Homo sapiens: one gene and its partners. The protein of the gene in region 1 purifies or fractionates together with the protein of each later gene. This does not show direct contact. Each region holds a gene or a part of one and is shown in the gene's direction. Other genes may lie near its edges.

Evidence for each region. The genes of interacting proteins can lie anywhere in the genome.
Region 2: the proteins of SEPTIN3 (region 1) and WDTC1 purify together in Homo sapiens (co-immunoprecipitation; 3 studies listed by BioGRID and IntAct, with this or other methods). This does not show direct contact.
Region 3: the proteins of SEPTIN3 (region 1) and CBR4 purify together in Homo sapiens (affinity purification with mass spectrometry; 4 studies listed by BioGRID and IntAct, with this or other methods). This does not show direct contact.

The regions. Positions count from the first base shown.
Region 1 is NC_000022.11:41,965,590-41,972,445, forward strand, and holds the start of SEPTIN3 (neuronal-specific septin-3), read left to right. Parts: upstream 1-3,853; 5' UTR 3,854-4,088; intron 4,089-5,884; 5' UTR 5,885-5,903; coding exon 5,904-6,856. UniProt on the Homo sapiens protein: Filament-forming cytoskeletal GTPase. May play a role in cytokinesis.
Region 2 is NC_000001.11:27,300,606-27,307,631, forward strand, and holds part of WDTC1 (WD and tetratricopeptide repeats protein 1), read left to right. Parts: intron 1-620; coding exon 621-856; intron 857-1,333; coding exon of another isoform or gene 1,334-1,620; exon of another isoform or gene 1,621-1,894; intron 1,895-3,015; coding exon 3,016-3,190; intron 3,191-4,395; coding exon 4,396-4,588; intron 4,589-5,580; coding exon 5,581-5,778; 3' UTR 5,779-7,026. UniProt on the Homo sapiens protein: May function as a substrate receptor for CUL4-DDB1 E3 ubiquitin-protein ligase complex.
Region 3 is NC_000004.12:169,000,256-169,007,281, reverse strand, and holds part of CBR4 (3-oxoacyl-[acyl-carrier-protein] reductase), read left to right. Parts: intron 1-390; coding exon 391-527; intron 528-1,367; coding exon of another isoform or gene 1,368-1,397; intron 1,398-5,076; coding exon 5,077-5,211; intron 5,212-7,026. UniProt on the Homo sapiens protein: Component of the heterotetramer complex KAR (3-ketoacyl-[acyl carrier protein] reductase or 3-ketoacyl-[ACP] reductase) that forms part of the mitochondrial fatty acid synthase (mtFAS).

The DNA.
Region 1 (6,856 bases):
CAATTTGTCACTCCCTCCTTCCCTCTGCCACATGACTAGCAATGCACTAGAAGGCAGCCTGGGTCCCAGAGGGAAGAGGGCACAGAGCAGAGCCTTAGTGGACCCAAATTACTGTGGACATGAGACATGGATGAGAAATCAATGTATCATTGCGGCCAGGTGTGGTGGCTCAGGCCTATAATCCCAGTACTTTGGGAGGCTGAAGTAGGAGGATCGCTTGAGGCCAGGGGTTTTAGACCAGCCTGGGCAACATGGCAAAACCCTGTCTCTACAAAAATTAGAAAAATTAGGCTGGACGCAGCTCACGCCTGTAATCCCAGCACTTTGGGAGGCTGAGAAGGGTGGATCACTTGAGGTCAGAAGTTTGAGACCAGCCTAATCAACATGGTGAAACCCTGCCTCTACTAAAAATACAAAATTAGTTGGGTGTGGTGGCACACACCTGTAATCCCAGCTACTTAGGACGCTAAGGCAGGAGAATTGCTTGAAACTGGGAGGCAGAGTTTGCAGTGAGCTGAGATCATGCCATTGCACTCCATCCTGGGCAATAAGAGCAAAACTCCATCTCAAGAAAAAAAAAAAGAAGAAATATTAGCTGGGCGTGGTGGCACATGCCTGTAGTCCCAGCTACTCAGGAGGCTGAGGTGGGAGGATCACCTGAGCCTGGGTAGGTCGAGGCTACAGTGAGCTGTGATAGTGCCACTGCGCTCCAGCTTGGGCAACAGAGTGAGACCCTGTCTCAAAAAAAAAAAAAAAAAAAAAAATCAGCATGTTGTTATCAGCCACTGGGATTTGGGAATGGTTGTTACTGCAGCATAATTTAACTCATTCTGACTGATATAATCTCCATTTTACAGATGAGAGGGGAGCTCAGGGGGATTGACTTGTTTGAAAATCACATAGTTGTAACAAACCCAGGCTTGAAGGACTCCAGAGCCTATGACACTTGTCTGGGAGGCCACCACAATGGTTTTGTGGTTGAGTGGAGGCCTCTGTTCTCTGAGGCCACTTCCAGGCCTATGGATCTTTCCTTTGATGGGAAAGCACCATATGTATAGATAGGAGAGGGCCATTGTCACTTTGGGCCCCTAGAGGGCAGCTGAAACTTGGCCTGTAATTACTGGGCAGGAAGTGTCCTCTAAGCCTCTAAGCAGGGCAGATGGGCAGGAGGATGCGGAGATGAACATGACTCAGGCCTTGCTCTCAAGGCCCTAACAGCCTGGCAGGGAGCGAGATGGAGGAATTGTAGATCTTGAAGTAGAAGAGACCGACCACATGAGGGCATCTGATCCCTATTTTAAAAGGCAACTGAGTCCCAGAAGCACAAGTTAATCTGATAGACGTTGCCTGGTGAATCGTTGGCCAAAGTGGGGAGAGAACCCAGGGCCACTGATTTCAGCCCAAGGCTGCTTATCTCACAGAGATCATGTAATCCAATGGGGCTGGGCCCAGGAAAGTCTCCCTTGCTCCAATCCGTCCAGGCAGAGCTGTGCCTCTCCTTCCCAGCACCCTCTGTTCTTCCTTAAGTCAGGCCAGTTCTCAGGGCCTCAAAGCATGGAAGCGCCAGATAGCTGCCCTCCCCCATCCACTGGGATCCCAGCACGTTGCCCTGGTAACCAGAGCCCAGCCAAGTTTGAGAACCTAAAGCTGTAAGGGGAGAGAAAGGATAAGAAGAGGGATAGGGGCTGGGCACGGTGGCTCATGCCTGTAATCCCAGCACTTTGGGAGGCCGAGGCAGGCGGATCACAAGGACAGGAGATCAAGACCATCCTGGCTAACACTGCGAAACCCCATCTCTACTAAAAATACAAAAAATTTAGGTGGGCGTGGTGGCGGGTGCTTGTAGTCCCAGCTACTCGGGAGGCTGAGGCAGGAGAATGGTGTGATGGTGTGAACCCGAGAGGCGGAGCTTGCAGTGAGTCGAGATGGCGTCACTGCACTCCAGCCTGGGTGACAGAGCGAGACTCTGTCTCAAAAAAAAAAAAAAAAAAAGAAGAGGGATGGGTGCTAGGCCCACACAATCACCATTCAATCATTCATTCATTCATTATTTCTTTCTAAAGAAATTTACCGGTTGGGCACGGTGGCTCATGCATGTAATCTCAGCACTTTGGGAGGCTGAGGCAGATGCATTACTTGAGGTCAGAAGTTTGAGACCAGCCTGGCCAACATGGTGAAACCCCGTCTCTACTAAAAATACAAAAATTAGCCAGGCGTGGTGGCACACACCTGTAATCCCAGCTACTTGGGAGGCTGAGGCAGGAGAATCCTGAGGCTTGAACCCGGGAGGCGGAGTTGCAGTGAGCTGAGATCCCGCCACTGCAGTCCAGCCTGGGTGACAGAGTGAGACTCTCAAGAAAAAGAAACTTACTGAAGCCAATTTTTGCCAGACCCTGGGGCCCAGAGAAGAAGATCCAGGACCTTCATAACTGAGCTTTCCACCCAGGCATGGTGGCTCACGACCGTAATCCCAGCACTTTGGGAGGTGGAGGTAGGAGTATTGCTTGAGCTCAGAAGTTCGAGACCAGCCTGAGCTACATAGGGAGACCCCCGTCTCTACAAAAAATAAAAACTTAGCTGGGCGTGGTGGTGCATGCCTGTGGTCCCAGCTACTCTGGAGGCAGAAGTGGGAGGATCACTTGTGCCCAAGAGGCTGCAGTGAGCCATGATGGCGCCACTGTCTTCCAGCCTGGGCGACAGAGTGAAACCCTGTTCAAAAAAACTAATAACAACAACAGCAACAACAAACGAAACAGAGCTGAGCTAATATGGTAGCCACAGATTAAAATAAACTAAAAAATCCAGTTCCTTGGTCACTGTAGACACATTTTAAGTGATCGGTAGCCATCTGTGGCTAGTGGCTACTGTACTGGACAGCACAGACATAGAACATTTCCATTATCACTGAAAGTTGTATTGCCCAGCGCAGCTCCAGAAGCTCACTCGCTAAAGAGAGAGACACACAGGAGAGCAGACCAGACAACACAGTGTTGTGTGGGCTGCAATGTCCTCCTCGGTAAAAAGCAGGTGATGAGGCGGAGATTAAAGGAGATGCCAGGAGAATGCTTAGCCTAGTTCCTGACTCAGGGTGAGTGCTCGGAGGACATCTGCCATCACCGTACAGGACAGTACTATAGGATCTGTTTACATACCTATCTTCCTAGCAGACTGTGAGCTCCGCCCAGCCCTGGCATGGTGCCGGGCACAGAGCAAGTGCTCAGGAAATAGTAGCTGTTATCAGCACCATTGTTATTATCACCACTGCTATGACAGAGGCAGCCGAGGGCTGTGGGAACACAGAAGAGGGCTCCCATCCCAGCCCCAGGGCCAGGGGCTGCTGAGAGTCGGCATTGCCAGAGCCAGGCTGGGTGGCTTTGTGGTCCCCTCAGGGGCAGGCCTAGGGCGGGGTCCTCTTCACACCCTTAGGGTCTGGGTACAGGGTCCAGCTGGAGCAAGCTGGGGCTCAGGGAATAGTTGTGGAAGGAGCTCTAGCCTCCAGGAACTCCAGCCCCCTTGAGGAAAGACCAGGTGAGTGGGCAAGATGGTCTGAGGGTTGCAGAGCTGAACAGGGCATGAAGGGCACAGAGGCAGAGCCAGAGGGAGACTCGCGCTGGGACTACCAGAGTGCAGCCATATTTGGAGTACCCCTGTTTTTACTGCAGACTCCCCAGGCATCAAAGTCTGTGGGAGACAGAGCAGATTTGGGGAGGGCAGGCTGCAGGGAACCTCCCTGCAGGTGGCCGTGAGTGCCAGCCTGGCCGTTACCAGCCTCCCATGGCTCTTCAGGATTCCAGAGGCTCAGAGCAGCCATTCACAGCCGCCCACTCCTAGGAAGCCAGCCCCTCCCTGCACCAGAGCCCAGCCCAGCACGGTCTCCGGGGATGTAGCTGGTGGGACAGTGAGCAGAGGGCTGGGCCCTGTGCCTGGGGACTGTGGCCTGGAGGCTGAGCAGGAGCTGAGGAGGGGACCAGAGGGACAAGGCCCCTAAGCTGGCCACCATGGCCAGACTCTGAGTGCAGGGGAGGTGAGGGGCCTGCGTGTGCCTTATCTTCCCAGACACACTGGATCCTTCTTGTCCTCTGATCAAGGTAGGTGTGTAGGGGGGTGGAAGGGTGTGGGGGTTTGTGGGGGTGGGAGGGTGGTGGGGGTGGGGTGGGGAAGGACCAAGCAATCCATGGAAGATGGGAGTGCAGTGAGGGGATGGGGAGTCGGGTGATGCCCTCGGACACCCTGTCCTCTGGCCTGCTCTGTGTGTGGGTGTGCACACTGAGGGGAGCTGTTTGTGGCTAAGTGCAGGGTAAACGTGTGTGCCCAAGTGGATGTGGCTGTGCAGGAGGGGGCAGAAGTTCAGGGCTGCAGTGATAGGCCAGGTGGGAAAGGGTTGGAGGCCAGGACAGTCTTGGATACAAATATATGGCTGGAGAGGGATGAGGGGCTGGGGGCACCATTGTGAGGGGTGATGCCTTCCCTGTCCGGTGCCCTGCCTTCCCCGTCCCTGCTGCAGACCTCAAGGACCTGGCTACATGATCACTCCCCTCCCCATGAGCCCTCTGGAACTGACTCCTCCCACCAGCCCTGGCCTTGTCCCCCAGCTGCAGGTCCCAGCCTGCTGTGTTAAAAGCAACCAAACCAACTTTTTTCTAGAGGGTGAGTTACTTGGAGTCCAGAGTAGCAGGGAGTGGCCCATCTACTAAGACCACAGCCAGAGTCCTGAGCTTCATCCTCGACACCTCTTTGTGCCCACTCCCTACCCTGGGCAGTCCCGCCACTTCTACCCCTGTGCAATGCAGCCTCCTCCAGCCCCAGCCCTAGCTCTGCCCCTTGCACAGCCCACGGAGCAGAGAGTTTCAACTATGTCCTCATGGGATCCTGGCTTCAATTCTGTTCCCATCTGATCCCTCTGTCACACTGCCCGAGTGGCCGTTCCCACCTACAGATCGGAATGGGTCACATTCCCTGGCCTAAACTTTGCTGTAGCCTGGCCTGGACCCCAGCTCACCTGCAGCCTTGGCTCTCCCCTCCCTGCTACATACAGCCTAGGAGCCCCATGTTGGATTTTCAGAAAGATGCCACACTTTCTCACCTTTGGGCCTTCTGTAGGAACAGCCCCAGCTCAGGTCTAGCCTCCCGCCTTTCTACCCCTAATGCTTAGCTTGGTGGAGCCCTGCCTACTTCCTTGCCTGGCATCCCTGGGCATGGCAGCCTCTTCAAGGGCGGGGACCATGGCTTGTTCACCAGATAAGCTCCTTCTGTGAACACTCACTGCCTCTCCATTTCCCATCCTCACCTTCTCCAGGGCTGGCTCTGTTTCTGACTCCAGCACTAGGCCAGCTCAGGGCTCTTTCTTGGTTCTGGGGCTCTAAGCCAAATTGGTCCTCTCTCATCCTGCCACCTGGACACCTGAGCTCCTATGTTGGCTGCTGTGGGTGGGAACCCACAGCCCTTTGGTTCTTTCTGGAAGAGAAAGGGAGAGACGTCTCCAGTAAGCACTGCCCTCCTCTGGAGTCCCTGAACATGTATGTGACCTCCATAGAGCTGTCCACAGAGACAGGGGCCACACTCAGGCCCAGGCAAAGGGAGACGTAAGCCCAGCCTGAGATGCCCCATGCTGGAGGCAGACTGCTCACTGGACGTGCCCACCCCACTGTGTGGTGGCTGGCCGGGGTGGGGTAGGTATGAGGTACAGATCAGTCTGCAGCAGGTAGGAGCCGTAGGAGGACAGGAGGAAGTTACATGCATCCTCCACTAAGGACTGGACAGTCCCCAGAACCAGGCCCCTTCAGACCCGGCATGCTCAGCTGCTGGTCAGGAAGGGGAGAGCTGAGACCTCCAGGCCTGAGCTCCTCACCCCTGCCTGGCCTCTTCTCTCTGTTGATTGCCTCAGGGAAAGACAAACGACCTGGATGGACCACAACTTTGCTCCTGCTCCTCCAGAGATGCAGTCGCATGGAGCTCCAGGCCCGGGAACCTCCTTCTCCCATAGCCATGTGCTGGGGCGCCCTATCCGCCCCTCGAGACTCCCTGGAGGAGGGTCCCCCCTCACCCCCGTCCTCAGGAAGACCATCCATCTGGATACCTTCCCCCAAAGCCATATCCCACAGACCTCCAGCCGGCTGGGCCTTGGAGCCAGGACCCGGAGTGTGCCCCCACAGGAGACGGGCATCGCTCTGGGGGCTTCCTTGAGCCCCCTGCCCACCAGCAGCCTTGTACCCAGGAAGCTCAGCTCCATCTCCTTGACTCTCCATCAGAACAGCCAGGCACGGTCCCTGGATCGCCCACTTTCTCACTGGGAAGAGTTGCCTACCCCAGGAAAGAAGGCTGCTCCCCATGAAGGAGGGAGGGTGTCCTCGCCAGGCTCGCCACCTGTGACCCTAGTGCCAGGGGGCAGGGTCCACTCTGAGGGCCCAGGGAACCCAGGTCTGACCAAATCCAACAGGATGCTTGCCACGGAGAAGCCCCTGGTGAGTTCCTACCTAGCCTTACCTTTCCAATCCCGGTTAGCCCAGAGTGCACCAGTCCTTGCAGAGCCAGGCTCGTTGGGCCAGGGGCACCTTGTCTCAGTGACTGACCACATGCCTACCAGAGCTTCTCCAGGAAAAGGCAAGCCCCGGGCCAGGGGGATCCCCAGACCCCGGGGGCGTCTCCAAAGGGCCAACACGACTGTGAATTTGACTGCTATGGACACAAGGACAGACGCAGCCAGACATTTAGCCACAATGGCCACCAACAGACCTAGCTTGGCTATCAATTTAGCCACACCAAACACATCCCAACTGGACACAGGCACAGAGTTCCCTGCCCTGGATATCAAGCTGGGCACAGCCAGAGACTTGTCTTCGGTAGGGACAGTCAAGTC
Region 2 (7,026 bases), on another chromosome or scaffold:
CAGCTTCCAGAGAGCTGACTCTGCCAGACTGTCAGGCCCCATCCTCCAGCCCCAGGAGGTAGAGGCCACAGCTGCTGTGGATCAGTCAGCCAGGACAGGGGGGGGTCTGGCTGAGGGCTTGCTGCCTGCTGGTCAGACCCTGCGTCCCCAGCCTGACACTTCTGGCTTCCCCAGACCACAGAACTGTCCTTGAGGGCCCCCTGCCTTGGATGTGGCTTTGAAGGCCAGCCGGGGGTGATTTGAGAAGGTGGATGGGGGAAGAGAGAAGGAGGGCTTGGGGAGCCTGTGGTGGGCAAGATGCCAGGCCTTCTGCTGCAGAGCTGCGGGTGCCTGGGGTGAGCCAGTGTGCAGTTGCACTCTGTGCCCAGCAGAGGGCAGCCTGACACCAGCTTTTGCCACCCTCAAGACCTCAGGGTTTCCTGGCTTGCTCCTTAACCATACTCTGTCTCCTGATGGGGGAGGCCTGGGCTGAGCCAGGATTCTCTTCGTCCTCAAGTCCCCTTGCCATGAGATCTGTCAGTGGTGGGCTGGGGTGGCCACAGGAAGCAGAGGAGACTGAATGGGGACCCCTTGCTTGCCACGTGGCTCCACCTCCAAGCCGCTCTTCCCTGCCTTCCCAGGGATGGTGACCACTATGATGCCCTGAGGGACTGCCTCAAGGCCATCTCCCTAAACCCATGCCACCTGAAGGCACACTTTCGCCTGGCCCGCTGCCTCTTTGAGCTCAAGTATGTGGCTGAAGCCCTGGAGTGCCTGGACGACTTCAAAGGGAAATTTCCGGAGCAGGCCCACAGCAGCGCTTGTGATGCATTGGGCCGCGACATCACAGCTGCCCTCTTCTCTAAAAATGATGGTGGTGAGTGGGCACTGAGGAGGGGGTGCTGTTACTCTTTCTCTTTGAGATGCTGCATGACATTCTGGAGAGGTCATGGTTCTGGGATTGGAGAGGCCTGGGTTCAGATGTTGATTCAGAAACCATGCAACTTTGGGGCAGTTACTTGGTGTCTCTCTCAGAGTGTTTCCTGGTCTGAAAAGGAGGCATGCCAGCACCTCCCACTGAGCGTTTCTATTGAGGATCAGCATGTTTAAATGGCATGTTTAAAGCACCTGGGGGAGTGCCTGGTGCCCAGGATAGGAGGAAGCTGAGCTCAGTCAGGCTCCCGCTAGGCATTCACACCTGCTTAGACAGGGCCCTGGTGGTTCCACTTGGGCATCTGAGAGGCAGAAGCTGGTCATTGTGTTTGTTCCGAGTGTACAAGTGCAGCAGAGACAATAGCGCAGAGCAGTAGAAATGCCTCAGGCTTGGAATGTGGGGCCTCGGTTCCAAATGCAGCTCCACCACCTGACTGTGTGGCCTTGAAGAAAGCACAGCCTCTCTACCTACCTGCACAAAGAGCACGAAGCCCTGCCCAGCTCCCCTCAGTGTGCTGGAGAATGAACTGGGCCATCGGAGTGTGGTCTGTAAACGTGAACGGTGAGCTCATAGGAGGCAGACATGGATCTTCACCTCTCTCCTTTGCAGTTTACCAACCACGTGATAAATTAATTTGTTTAATGAATAGTTATCAGACACCTGCCATGTGCCAGGCACTGTGCTGGGTCCTGGGAATAGAGCTGTGACTAAGTCACGTGGAATTTCTGTGTTTATGGCATTTACAGTCTAGTGAAGGAACCAAGTGATAAAGGAGAAACAAAAAAGTATGACAAGTGCCATGGGGACCTGAATGGTGTGCATGCTGGGAGGGGGTGGGCTTGATGGCATTCTGGGGTTCTTCAGGAAGAAACATTTAAACTAAGATCTAAAGGATCCAAAGGAAGCATTAACTAGATACAAAATATAGCTGTGTGGCCTAGCGCGGTGGCTCACGCTTATAATCCCAGCACTTTGGGAGGCTGATGTGGGAAAATAGCTTGAGCCCAGGAGTTCAATATCAGCTAGGACAACATAGCAAGATCCCATCTCAACAAAAGAAAAATTAAAAAAAATTAGCCAGGGGTGGTGGCACACACCTGTAGTCCCAGCTCCTCGGGCAGCTGAGGCAGGAGGATCACTTGAGCCCAGGAGGTCAAGGCTACAGTGAGCCATGATCACACCACTGCACTCCAGCCTGGGTGACAGAGCAAAATCCTGTCTCAAACAACAACAACAACAAAATGTAGCTGTGGGAGATGCAGAGCTCCTGGCATATGAACCAGCATGCTCCAAGGCCCTGAAGCAGGTATGAGTGAGTCACTTTTAAGGAACTGAGAAAACTTGTGTGACTTTACCTGTCACTTAACTGATCAGTGACTCTCATTTGGGACCCTAATAACTTGTCTTCCAGAGGGTAAGGGCATGGTCCTTACTGCCCTAAGTGCCATGAATCTGTTTATAAAAGTCACCCAGGCTGGGCTCGGTGGCTCATGCCTGTAATCCCAGCACTTTGGGAGGCCAAGGCAGGTGGATCACCTGAGGTCAGGAGTTTGAGACCAGCCTGGCCAATGTGGCGAAACCCCGTCTCTACTAAAAATACAAAAATTAGCTGGGCGTGGTGGCACGTGCCTGGTAGTCCCAGTTACTCAGGAGGCTGAGGCAGGAGAATCGCTTGAACCTTGGAGGTGGAGGTTGCAGTGAGCCGAGATCACGCCACTGCACTCCAGCCTGCGTGACCATCTCAAAAAAAAAAAAAAAAGTCATCCATTCTCTCTTTGCTAGTGCCTCACTCTACCCTCCCCTGCCTCTTACCTCCACAGAAACAGACTTTGAGTCTCTGCATCTTTGGGGCTTTCAGGCCCTCATTTAGGGACCTGAACCAGGGCCCTCCTGGCATCAAAGGTCTCCTCTTGAACATCCTCAGGGGCTAGATCCAAAGATGCATCTTCCTCACAACCTTTCCCCAGTTTTCCAGGATAAGGGTGGAGGCAGGTAGCTCTATGTTGTCAGACTTTGGACTGAAAACAGAGCCATAGGTGGGGGAAAATAGGGAAGGAGAGAAAGGAACAAGGCGCTTACCTTTTCTGGATCTCTGCCCCCAGAGGAGAAGAAGGGACCTGGTGGCGGCGCCCCAGTCCGCCTCCGCAGCACGAGCCGCAAGGACTCCATCTCAGAGGATGAAATGGTGCTGCGGGAGCGAAGCTACGACTATCAGTTCCGCTACTGCGGCCACTGCAACACCACCACGGATATCAAAGAGGCCAATTTCTTTGGCAGGTCCGAGGCCCTGAAGAGGAGGGTGCAGCCCAGTTGGCAGCGGGAGGTTGAGTGGGGAGTGTTGGGGCATAATGGTTTCAGAGAAGAATCTCAAATCCCTGCTCTGCCTCTGTACCCTTGGGCAAATGGCTTCACCTTTGTCAGCCTCTAAAGTTTTTTAATCTATGAAATGACCAACCTGCCATGCCCATTTATGAGGCCATAACAAGGACTAATAAGATAACCCAAGTAGAGCCTCCAGCGCAGTGCCTGAACTACTCCTTCATCCCCCACCTCCTTCTCCCTCTGTCTGCATGTGCCAGAGCTTGGTTTCTTTATCTGCATTCAAGGAACCTCCCTCTGCTTGAGAGTATGAGGCAGCAGCCCTCCAAGGCTGGGAATCTTGGCACATCTGTTTTGTGCTCAAAACTGTGCCCTGTGTACTAAGGGACAAACTCTGTGTTTCAGACACCATCATCCCCACCCCTCATTTGTAGATGTACTTTCTTTGGGTAGGTGAGACACATGAACATGAATCAAGAATCTCTCCATAGGCCAGGCACAGTGGCTCATGCCCGTAATCCCAGCACTTGGGGAGGCTGAAGCAGGAGGATCGCTTGAGCCCAGGAGTTTGAGACCAGCCTGGACAGCATAGACCCCCATCTCTACAAAAAATGTTTTAAATTATCTGGGTGTGGTGACGTGCACCTGTAGTCCCAGCTATTCAGGAGGTTGACATTGGAGGACCAGTTAAGGCCACAGTGAGCCATGATCATGCCACTGTACTCCAGCTTGGGTGACAGAATGAGACCCTGTCTCTAAGAAAAAAAAAGAATCCATCAAGATGCCCTCTAAATGTCAGTGGTGTGTGAGGGGCAGGGGGAGTCTGGATGCCAGAAGCCTGGAACTGCTCAGGGGAGGCTTAAAACAGGGTATTTTGGAGACCCGAGAGATGATGTAAGATGATCCTGGCCCAAGGAGGTAATAATGAACTATAGGGGAGACTGTCTTGGAGAAATCCAGGTAGTCGCTGGCCCTAGGTTTAAGAGAACAGTGACCAGGGCTATATACCTGGAGGAATTCTGGGTCAAGTGCACACCCCAGCGTGTGGGGGACTGAGTGGCTGCAGACTTCCTTGCTCCCCCTTTACCTAGGCCATGCAGCCTCTACTTGAGGCTGTAGGGCAGTACCCCACCTGACCTCCCTGCCCTTTGCCCCCCCGCCAGCAACGCTCAGTATATCGTCAGTGGCTCTGACGATGGCTCCTTCTTCATCTGGGAAAAGGAGACCACCAACCTGGTCCGTGTGCTCCAAGGGGATGAGTCCATTGTCAACTGCCTGCAGCCACACCCCAGCTACTGCTTCCTGGCCACCAGTGGCATCGATCCTGTTGTGCGGCTCTGGAACCCCCGACCAGAGGTGAGGGTGCAGAGCCAAGCAGAGAGGAGGGCAGGGACTCTGTGGAAGGCTCCAGTGGAGCCTGCTAGCGCAGGGAAGAGAAATGAGCCACCCAGAGGCTAGAAGCTGCTAAGTAAGCCTTACCCCGGGGCCCAAGGCTGTGTTCTCAGATTCCAGAAGCTCCAAATGCAGCAGCAATTCTCCAGAAGCTGTGCAGAGGCCCTGGTCACAAGGGAACTATGCAGGCTTTGGCATCTGGTAGGCCTAAGTTTGAATCCAGTCTCCTCACTCGCTGCCTGAGAGACTTCACCATCTCTGACCCAGGCTTTTAATCATCTGTACATTGGGAATGGGAATGACAGCACCACCTTGAAAGGTTGTGGTGAGAAGTAAAGAAGAGATGCCTGTGAAGTGTCCAGCCCACAAGGACACTTAGGACAGTGGAGTCCCCTCCACTCCCAGGGTGGGTAGCCAGGGAAGCTGGCTTGGTGCCTCCCCTTCCCCTCTGCCCTACTGCTTCCCTCTTCCCAGCTGGCAAAACAAAAGTCAAGTGGTATGTCTGATTCCCAAGATAATTTGCTGTGACTTTTAAAGAGAGGACCCCTATAGGCTTCCCCATTGAGAGGAGAGGAGAAAGAAAGATGAAGCAAGAGTTGTGGCAACAAAACAGAATGGGGTGGGGAAGTTGTATCTGCCCCTTGTCCCAGGTATCCCAGTATGTGTGTCCAACATATCCTGGTGTGTACTGTCCCCCACGTATATCCCAGCATGTTATGACCTGCCTGTATATCCTGAGGTGGCGTATCTCCCATATATATTCCAGCGTGAGCACCCCCAACAATATGTAGCCAAGGTTGTGTGTTCCCCTCCACCATATACACCTCCTGGCATGTATGTGTACCTCCCCCTATAGATAGTTTAGTCTGTGTATTTCCCTCCCCCTCCCCTATACGTGTACCCTGGTGCCTCTCCCTCCCTGAGCCCCACGTGTGTCACCCCTTTCTCCACCACAGAGTGAAGACCTCACAGGCCGAGTCGTGGAAGATATGGAGGGTGCTTCACAGGCCAACCAGCGGCGCATGAATGCAGACCCGTTGGAGGTGATGCTGCTCAACATGGGCTACCGGATCACGGGCCTGAGCAGTGGGGGTGCCGGGGCCTCTGATGATGAGGACAGCTCTGAGGGCCAGGTGCAGTGCCGGCCCAGCTAGACCCTCCAGCCCTGGTCCCCAGCCCCTGCTACTGGCTGGACCCTCTGCCCTGGGCAGGAGGTCAGGGGATTCTGTTTTGGTTTGTCTTCCCCACCACCCTTTTTTTTCATTTCCCCTGTTTTGTTTGTTAGTTTGGCGTTAGGGGTGGAGGTTGCTACAACTTGCTGGCTTTCGGACTCTGGGCTGATTGTCCCCTGACTATCCCCAGCCCTGAAAAAAAGAGCAGGAGGGGACACCCCTCCATATGCCCCCCCCCATCTCCTGCTTTCATGTCCCTGGAGGGCTCTGGCCTGCCTCAAAACCCCTTCTGCCTCAGGTGGGGAGGAACAAGCTGAACTGTCTTCAGGGACTGTCCTGCCCTTTAGCTGGCAGCAGCAGGAGGAGTGGGATTCCCAATTGGTAAGGGCTCGCCTTGGCCTGTTGCCACTCTTGCTCCCTAGCCTGCAAGGCTAGCTCCCCTGTGGTCTTCAGGAAAGGTTTTGAAAAAGGATGGGTCCCACCCTCCCTCCAGAGCCACCAGTGTTAGAGCGGAGCCCAAAGGAAGGATGGGAGCCCTGGAGTGGGCAAGACCAGGCCACCTGCTGAGGTCGCTGTGGAGCACCCTCGCTCCTCTCCTGGCTACTAGCTCTGGCCCTGCACCTACTCTCACTGGCCACCTCTGGAGGCTCTGCCTTTCCCAAGGGCCCTGGCAGAGGGTGGGGCACTGCACCTTACCCCACCCATCCATGCCAGCACTTCTGCACTACGGCCATTCTCCTCTTGGGCGCTCCTCAGCCTCACTGTGACCTTTCTGCCAGAGCTCCCAGCCAGGCCTACTCTGCTGAGGTGGCGCTTCCTGCTAAGGGCCCTTCTCTGCCCTTTCTGCCCTCCTTCCCATCCCACATGCTGAGCCGCCACAAAGACCAAAGAAGTGATGGCTTTTCTCTGTCCCCTGCTGCTCTGAGGGGAGAGGGGTGGGTCTCCTGAGCCACTCAGATGGGAAAGTCCCTTACTCGGCCCCTCCCTCCCCAGCAGCCCCAAGCTTTACACTGGATGCAGCGATCAACCCACCACTCACCAGGCCTCTCCTCCCCTCTGCCCCCGGCTCTTAGCTCCAGCTGCTCCAGGTAGTTGGTTCATCCTTCCCCCTCTCTCCCTCCCTGCTTCCCCTTCAGTGCTTACTTGGCTCCAGCCCTCCAGCTGCAGCCCCTGGGGAAAAGCAGCCTCCCTTCTCCTCTCCCTCCACTCCCTCGCTCCCTCCCTCAGCCC
Region 3 (7,026 bases), on another chromosome or scaffold:
GGAGTGGATATTATTTTTTAAAAGATGAATTTAGGAGAGAATATTTAGATAACATATTAATTTTCTTGCTAAACAAGGCTTAGTATGGCAGTTGCTCAGGCCATTCAAACTATTTTGGCTATATGTTACTACTTTTTAGGGGTTAAGAATATTTGCCACTCAAGCTGAGAAGGGGTAGCAACCTGTCTTCCAAGTGGATCCTTTCTGGTTTATCAATTGTTATTTTAATGTTTCTCAAGCCAAGTTCAAAATGGGACTCTAGGTATTCTAGCTATTCTAGCTCAGATAGGAAGCACTTCTTGCACTCTCAGTAAAAATGTTACATTAGTCTTGACCTTTTTGGTTTTTATCTTGTTATTATATGCTATTATATGCTGTTTCTTTTTGTAGGGATGGTCTTTTAGTAAGAACAAAAACTGAAGATATGGTATCTCAGCTTCATACTAACCTCTTGGGTTCCATGCTGACCTGTAAAGCTGCCATGAGGACTATGATTCAACAACAGGGAGGGTCTATTGTTAATGTAGGTGAGTCTTCACCTTTGTGAATTTATGATTATCCCATAATACCATACCATAAAAATATTTAATCCACGAATTTGTGATTTATTGTGAAACATGAATGAAATTTATATTATCTGTGGAAAAAAGGATTTAATTAATTGATTAATGAGTAAAATAAGAATCACACATTCACATCCCTATAGGAGTCAGGCAGGTGTTAAATGAGTGACACCACTGAGTACTAGAAAAATGACAGTACCAGCCATGTGATAAATGATATCCAGCTTCATTGTCCAGAGCCCATATGGAATGGTGGAGGCCACCACTTAGATTCAGTAGATTGTTGCCGTGCAAGAATGTGGTCCCAGTTTTGCCAGCAATTTTGATTTTTCAAGAGAAATTGGATCATTCTGATTTTTATGTGAATTTTTTTTTTTTTAAATAGAGACGAGGTCACACTATGTGGCCTAGGCTGGTCTTTAACTCATGGGCTCAAGTGATCCTCCCGAAGTGCTGGGATTATAGAGGTGAGCCACGTGCCCAGCCAGGAACCTGATTTTTAAAACATGGACAAGGAATTAAAGTAGACAGTGGTGGCTAAATAATATTGTCTACAGCAGTTTCATGGGTTACTGTTAAATCTTGTGTAGAGGTTTAAAGGAAGATAAAATTTCTCTGTTTTTAAGAATGGATGTAAGTAACCCCTAGTTTTCAGTTCATCTAACCCACAGGGCAGATAAGCTGTGGAGTATATGCCTGTAGAACTTAAAATGCAAAATGACTTGAAATTTTATTTCAGTTTGGTAATTTGGAAATAATAGTATACCATCTGCTTTTTATTTTCAAATGGTAATACCTTAAAAGGCCACAGAAGGGAGATGCTGCTCCATAAAAGTAAGTGACCCTGTTCTTTTAAATGTAGGAAATGGTTTTTCAAGCCAGAATTTAGAGTTTTTCTGTTTTGAAAGTGAGAAAAGGAAAGAATACTATGCTAATAAACTAAGGGGACATGAGAGCATTTTGGACATTTACTCTTAAAAATTTAAGGGATCCGTTTTCTTATGTAAGAGATTAGTCAATGAGTCAACCTTTGCCTTTTAACACAGCCAGATAAGGACTTTGGATACTTACAAGCAGGCAAACAGGCCTGTATCTGTCACCTGATAACCTGAGGTATATTTGTTTAACTCTAAAATCTTCTTTTTTTTAGGTGTATTTAAAAAACCCATTAGTCCTCCTTATGCATGCAAAACTTTTAGAATTGAGCTAAAAGTAAATAATAGATAGTAAATTGAGAATCTTACTACAGGAAGGACTACTTTAAACTGCCAGACACTTCATTGGTATTTCAGAAATTACCACTTTTTGACCTGATGAACAGTAGTGCGTGGCACGAATCAAAGCTGCTAAAGCAGCTTGTGTTTTTTTTTCTTTTAAAAGCCACTCATATTTAGCAGTTGGGGGTTGTATACTAACTTTAGTGACACTACTGTTAATAGGTTCTGATAACCCGCTACCATCGGACCAGCCCTGTTTTGGTATTTTTTTCGTGCATGTATTTTTCTTTTTTTGTGTCTCTGTATTTTTCTTTCTGATAAACACCCCTCTATCCATATGCATTTCTTCAGTCTGATGTCTGTTCTCTCTGTGTACTTCACAGTTCTCTTCCTTTGTTATTAATTGGCCTACAATATATAATGTAGATAAATATTCTAATACTGAACTTGTTGATTCTAATAGAGAAATGTTTGGAATGTTTTCTTTTTTTAAAATTACTTTAAAAAAATTTTGTGAGGTCCTTGATTAATTTTTGTATCATAAGTACAGGTCAGTGGTGCAGAAAATTACTTCCCCACTTCTGTTTTGCAAGAGTTTATTTGCATATAGTTGATATTTGAATTAAAAATTATTATTACATATTCATTAGATGTGGTCACTCAAGAATCTTCAGTAGGCAGTACAGTTTACAATATATCACTGAATGTAATGAAATTGCACTTTTACAAAAAGTGTATAATTGAAGCTTTGCCAATTTAGATTGACAGTACAAGCATGTCTCGCAGATATTGTAGCTTTGGTTCTGCTCCACCGGAATAAAGCGAATATGTCAAGAATGTAAGTCACACAAATTGAATTGCTGCAATCTCATGATAAAACAAATGGGTGAGGAGTTGCTTCTTATGTATGGATAAACAAAGTTGTTTCTCAAGATGGAATCTACTTGTGAAGATGTGAATACTGTTGAAATGACAAAGGATTTAGAATATCCTATAAACTTAGTTGATAAAGCAATAGCAGGGATTGAGAGGAGAGGCTCCAATTTTTAAAGTTCTACTTGGATAAAATGCTATCAAAGAGCATCACATGCTGCAGAGAAATCTTTCATGAAATGAAGAGTCAATCAATGTGGCAAATTTTGTCTTATCCAATTGTTTAGTTTCTCAGTGCATGTAAAAGTTATATTATGGTCTATTAAGTATGCAGTAGCATTATATCTAAAAAAAATGTAAATACTTTGTTGCTAAAAAAATACTTTATTGCTAAAAAATGCTAATGATCATCTGAGCTTCTGGCAAGTCATAATCTTTGCTGGCGGAGGGTCTTGCCTTGATGTTTATGGCTGCTGACTGATAATAGTGGCTGTGGCAATTTCTTTATTTTTTTTATTTTTTTATTTTATTATTGTTATACTTTAAGTTTTAGGGTACCGTGCACAATGTGCAGGTTAGTTACATATGTATACATGTGCCATGCTGGTGTGCTGCACCCACTAACTCGTCATCTAGCGTTAGGTATATCTCCCAATGCTATCCCTCCCCGCTTCCCCCACCCCACAACAGTCCCCAGAGCGTGATGTTCCCCTTCCTGTGTCCATGTGTTCTCATTGTTCAGTTCCCACCTATGAGTGAGAACATGCGGTGTTTGGTTTTTTGTCCTTGCGATAGTTTACTGAGAATGATTTCCAATTTCATTCATGTCCCTACAAAGGACATGAACTCATCATTTTTTATGGCTGCTTAGTATTCCATGGTGTATATGTGCCACATTTTCTTAATCCAGTCTGTCATTGTTGCACATTTGATTTGGTTCCAAGTCTTAGAATAAGACAAAATTTGCCACATTGATTGACTCTTCATTTCGTGAGAGATTTCTCTGCAGCATGTGATGCTGTTTGATAGCATTTTATGCAAGTAGATCTTTAAAAATTGGAGCCACTCCTCTCAATCCCTGCTATTGCTTTATCAACTAAGTTTATAGGATATTCTAAATCCTTTGTCATTTCTTTCAACAGTATTCACATCTTCACAAGGAAGAGATTCCATCTTGAGAAACAACTTTGTTTATCCATACATAAGAAGCAACTCCTCACCCATTTGTTTTATCATAAGATTGCAGCAATTCAGTCACATCTTCAGGCTCCACTTGTAATTCTGCTCCACTGAAGTCTTGAACCCCACAAAGTCATCCATGAGGGTTAAAATAACTTCTTTCAAACTTCTGTTAATGTTGGTATTTTGACCTGCCATGAATCACAAATGTTCTGAATGGCATATAGAACGGTGAATCCTTTCCAGAAGGCTTTTAATTTACTTTGCCCAGATTCCTAAGAGGAATTACTATTTATGACTGCTATAGACTTATAAAATGTTTCTTAAATAAGACTTGAAAGTCAGAATTATCCCTTGATCCATGAGCTGAAGAAAGGATATTGTGTTAACAGGCACGAAAACAACATTAATCTCCTTGTACATATCCATCAGAGCTCTTTGGTGACCAGATGCATTGTCAGTGAGCAGTAATATTTTGTTTGTGGCACCCCAACAGCAGTAAACATCAAGAATCACTGATCACAGATCATTATAACAGATGTAATAATAATGAAAAAATTTAAGATGGTATGAAAATTACCAAAATGTGACAAAGAGACACAGAGTGAGCACTGCTCACAGTGAGCCATGGTGTTGGAAAAGTGCTAATAGAATTGCTTGTTGCAAGGTTGCTACAAGCCTTCAATTTGTTAAAAAAAAAAAAAAAAAATGCAATATCTGCAAAGCACAATAAAGCAGAACAATAAAATGAGTTATGCATGTAATTCAATTTTAGTGAGATTTAGCTTCAAATGAACTAGTTTTTAGGGTGAAAACGAGAGCTTTCTGCCTTATGTCTGTGTTGTAGAATCATAAAATTAGTCAGCTTTTGTCTGACTTTTTCTGGCTTTAACCTCTACCTGCTGGAAGCCTTTATAAATACCACAGAATTTTCATCATATCTGACCTACTCAGAGATTAGAGTGCATCCCCTTCACGTAGTGAATCAATTCGCAAGCACCTGCATTGGCAGTTTTGTATCAGCTGCTTTCAGATGCTATTTTCTGTATGTATCTGGAGCAGACTTGGACTCTTAAATCTTCCGTAAATGACTGATGACAATGGTTAGAATTTCTAATTTTAACAAAGGACAAGGTGAAGTGGGTTTTACCTTTTTGTTTACTATAAATTATCTAAATTTTCAAGTAACCCCATTAATTGAATTTAATACGCTTTTTTTTTTTTTTTTTTTTTTTTTGTCCTAGGAAGCATTGTTGGCTTAAAAGGCAACTCTGGCCAGTCCGTTTACAGTGCCAGTAAAGGAGGATTAGTTGGATTTTCACGTGCTCTTGCTAAAGAGGTAGCAAGAAAGAAAATTAGAGTGAATGTAGTTGCACCAGGTTAGTGAAAACTTTATTAAAATAACTTGATTATGATTATTGTTTTATAGGGAAGCCATTATTTGGAACATTAGTAATTGACATCTGGGTAGAATAGTTTGTAAAATGATTGTGAAAAGAATCAAATAATGAACTGGGGGACTCAAAAAAATTTTTTGTACCTCATATTCTATATAAAGTCTATGTGTTAGCCTGTTTGCATTGCTCTAAAGGACTGTCTGAGGTAATTCATAAAAAAAAGAGGCTTATTTGGCTCTCGGGCCTGCAGGCTGTACAAGCATGACACCAACATCTGCTCAGCTTCTGGTGAGGCCCAGGAAACTTTTTTTCAGTCATGGCGGAAGGTAAAGAGGTAGCAGCCAAGTCATATGGGGATAGCAGGAGCAAGAGAGAGAGGAGGTGGCAGGCTCTAAACAACCAGCTCTGGCATGAACTAACAGTGAGAACTCATTATTTACCATGTGGAGGGCACCAAGCTATTCATGAGGAATCCGCCTCCATGACCCAAACACCTCCCGCTAGGCCCACCTCCAACATTGGGAATCACATTTCAACATGAGATTTGGAGGGGACAGACATCCAAACCATAAGAGTCTTTATTTTTAAATTTTGCACTAGTGGAATAACTTAAGGTGGAGAGGGTCTTAGAAATAATTTTTTCCAGTCATTTTTGTAGATTAGAAAACTGTACCTGGGATTCAGAGTGACTTGCCTAAGGTTACACAGCTAGTTTATGGAAGAACTGTTACTAAAAGCTTTGTCTTTTGATTTCCACCTAATGGGAGCTTAAAAATAATGTCCTACCAGGTATGGTAGCTCATGTGGGAGGCTGAGGCAGGAGTATTGTGAGGCCAGGAGTTCCAGATCAGCCTGAGCAACATAGCAAGATGCTGTCTGTACCGAAAAAAAAAAAAAAAAATTAGCTGGGTGTGGTGGTGCACACCTATAGTCCCAGCTATTTGGGAGGCTGAAGCAGGAGGATTGCTGGAGTCCAGGAGTTGGAGGTTGCAGTGAGCTATGATCATGCCATTGTACTCCAGCCTAGGTGACAGAGCGAGACCCTGTTGAGACCCTGTCTCTATAAAAATTAAAAAAAAAATTCTTTTTAGATTTTCTTTATATCATTACACAAACTTTAGATAGTTTTGTCCTTTTACTACTATGGTCTGTCTAAACTATCTGGAACCTCCCATTTTCCTAATTTTTACTTTTCCATTATTTGCCTTTCGCCAGGGTACTAGTTGATAAAATTGCCTGGATTAATGAAGAGGGTAATAAAAAGGTGCTAAAACTCAAAAATATATGATCACTAATTAGCTGGTGTGCTAGAAATTTTGATTAGGTATTTACTTGGTTTTTGAGTAACACAAGTGTTTTTATCTACCTCTGCCAGTTAGCCATGGAATCTTTGTCCTAGCCTACTGTAGGTACTTAAGAATTAATCACCTATATAAGAAAAGGCAGTTTATTTTGGTTTGCTGGTCCTTTGTAAGAAAGAGAGGGCTGAAGTAGACCTTTGCTACCTTTCCCTTTCCGGTCACTAATGGCTCCAGCTTGGACCTTACAGTTGGTGTTTTCTTTGGCACTGAAGTTGAGCCAGCAGGTATCAGGGATTTATCAAAATATCCTATTAACCCTTTTGGTCTATAGTGTGTCTTTATTTCAATTCTTTTCTTTTCTTTTTTTTTTTTCTCATAGCAACTAGCTACATTCAGACATTCTAAATCTATGAATATTTGATAAGTGACTGTGGTTCAGATACATCTATTTGCTGGGAGTAGGGAGAGAAAGAAAAAGAAAAAACAATCCAGAAGC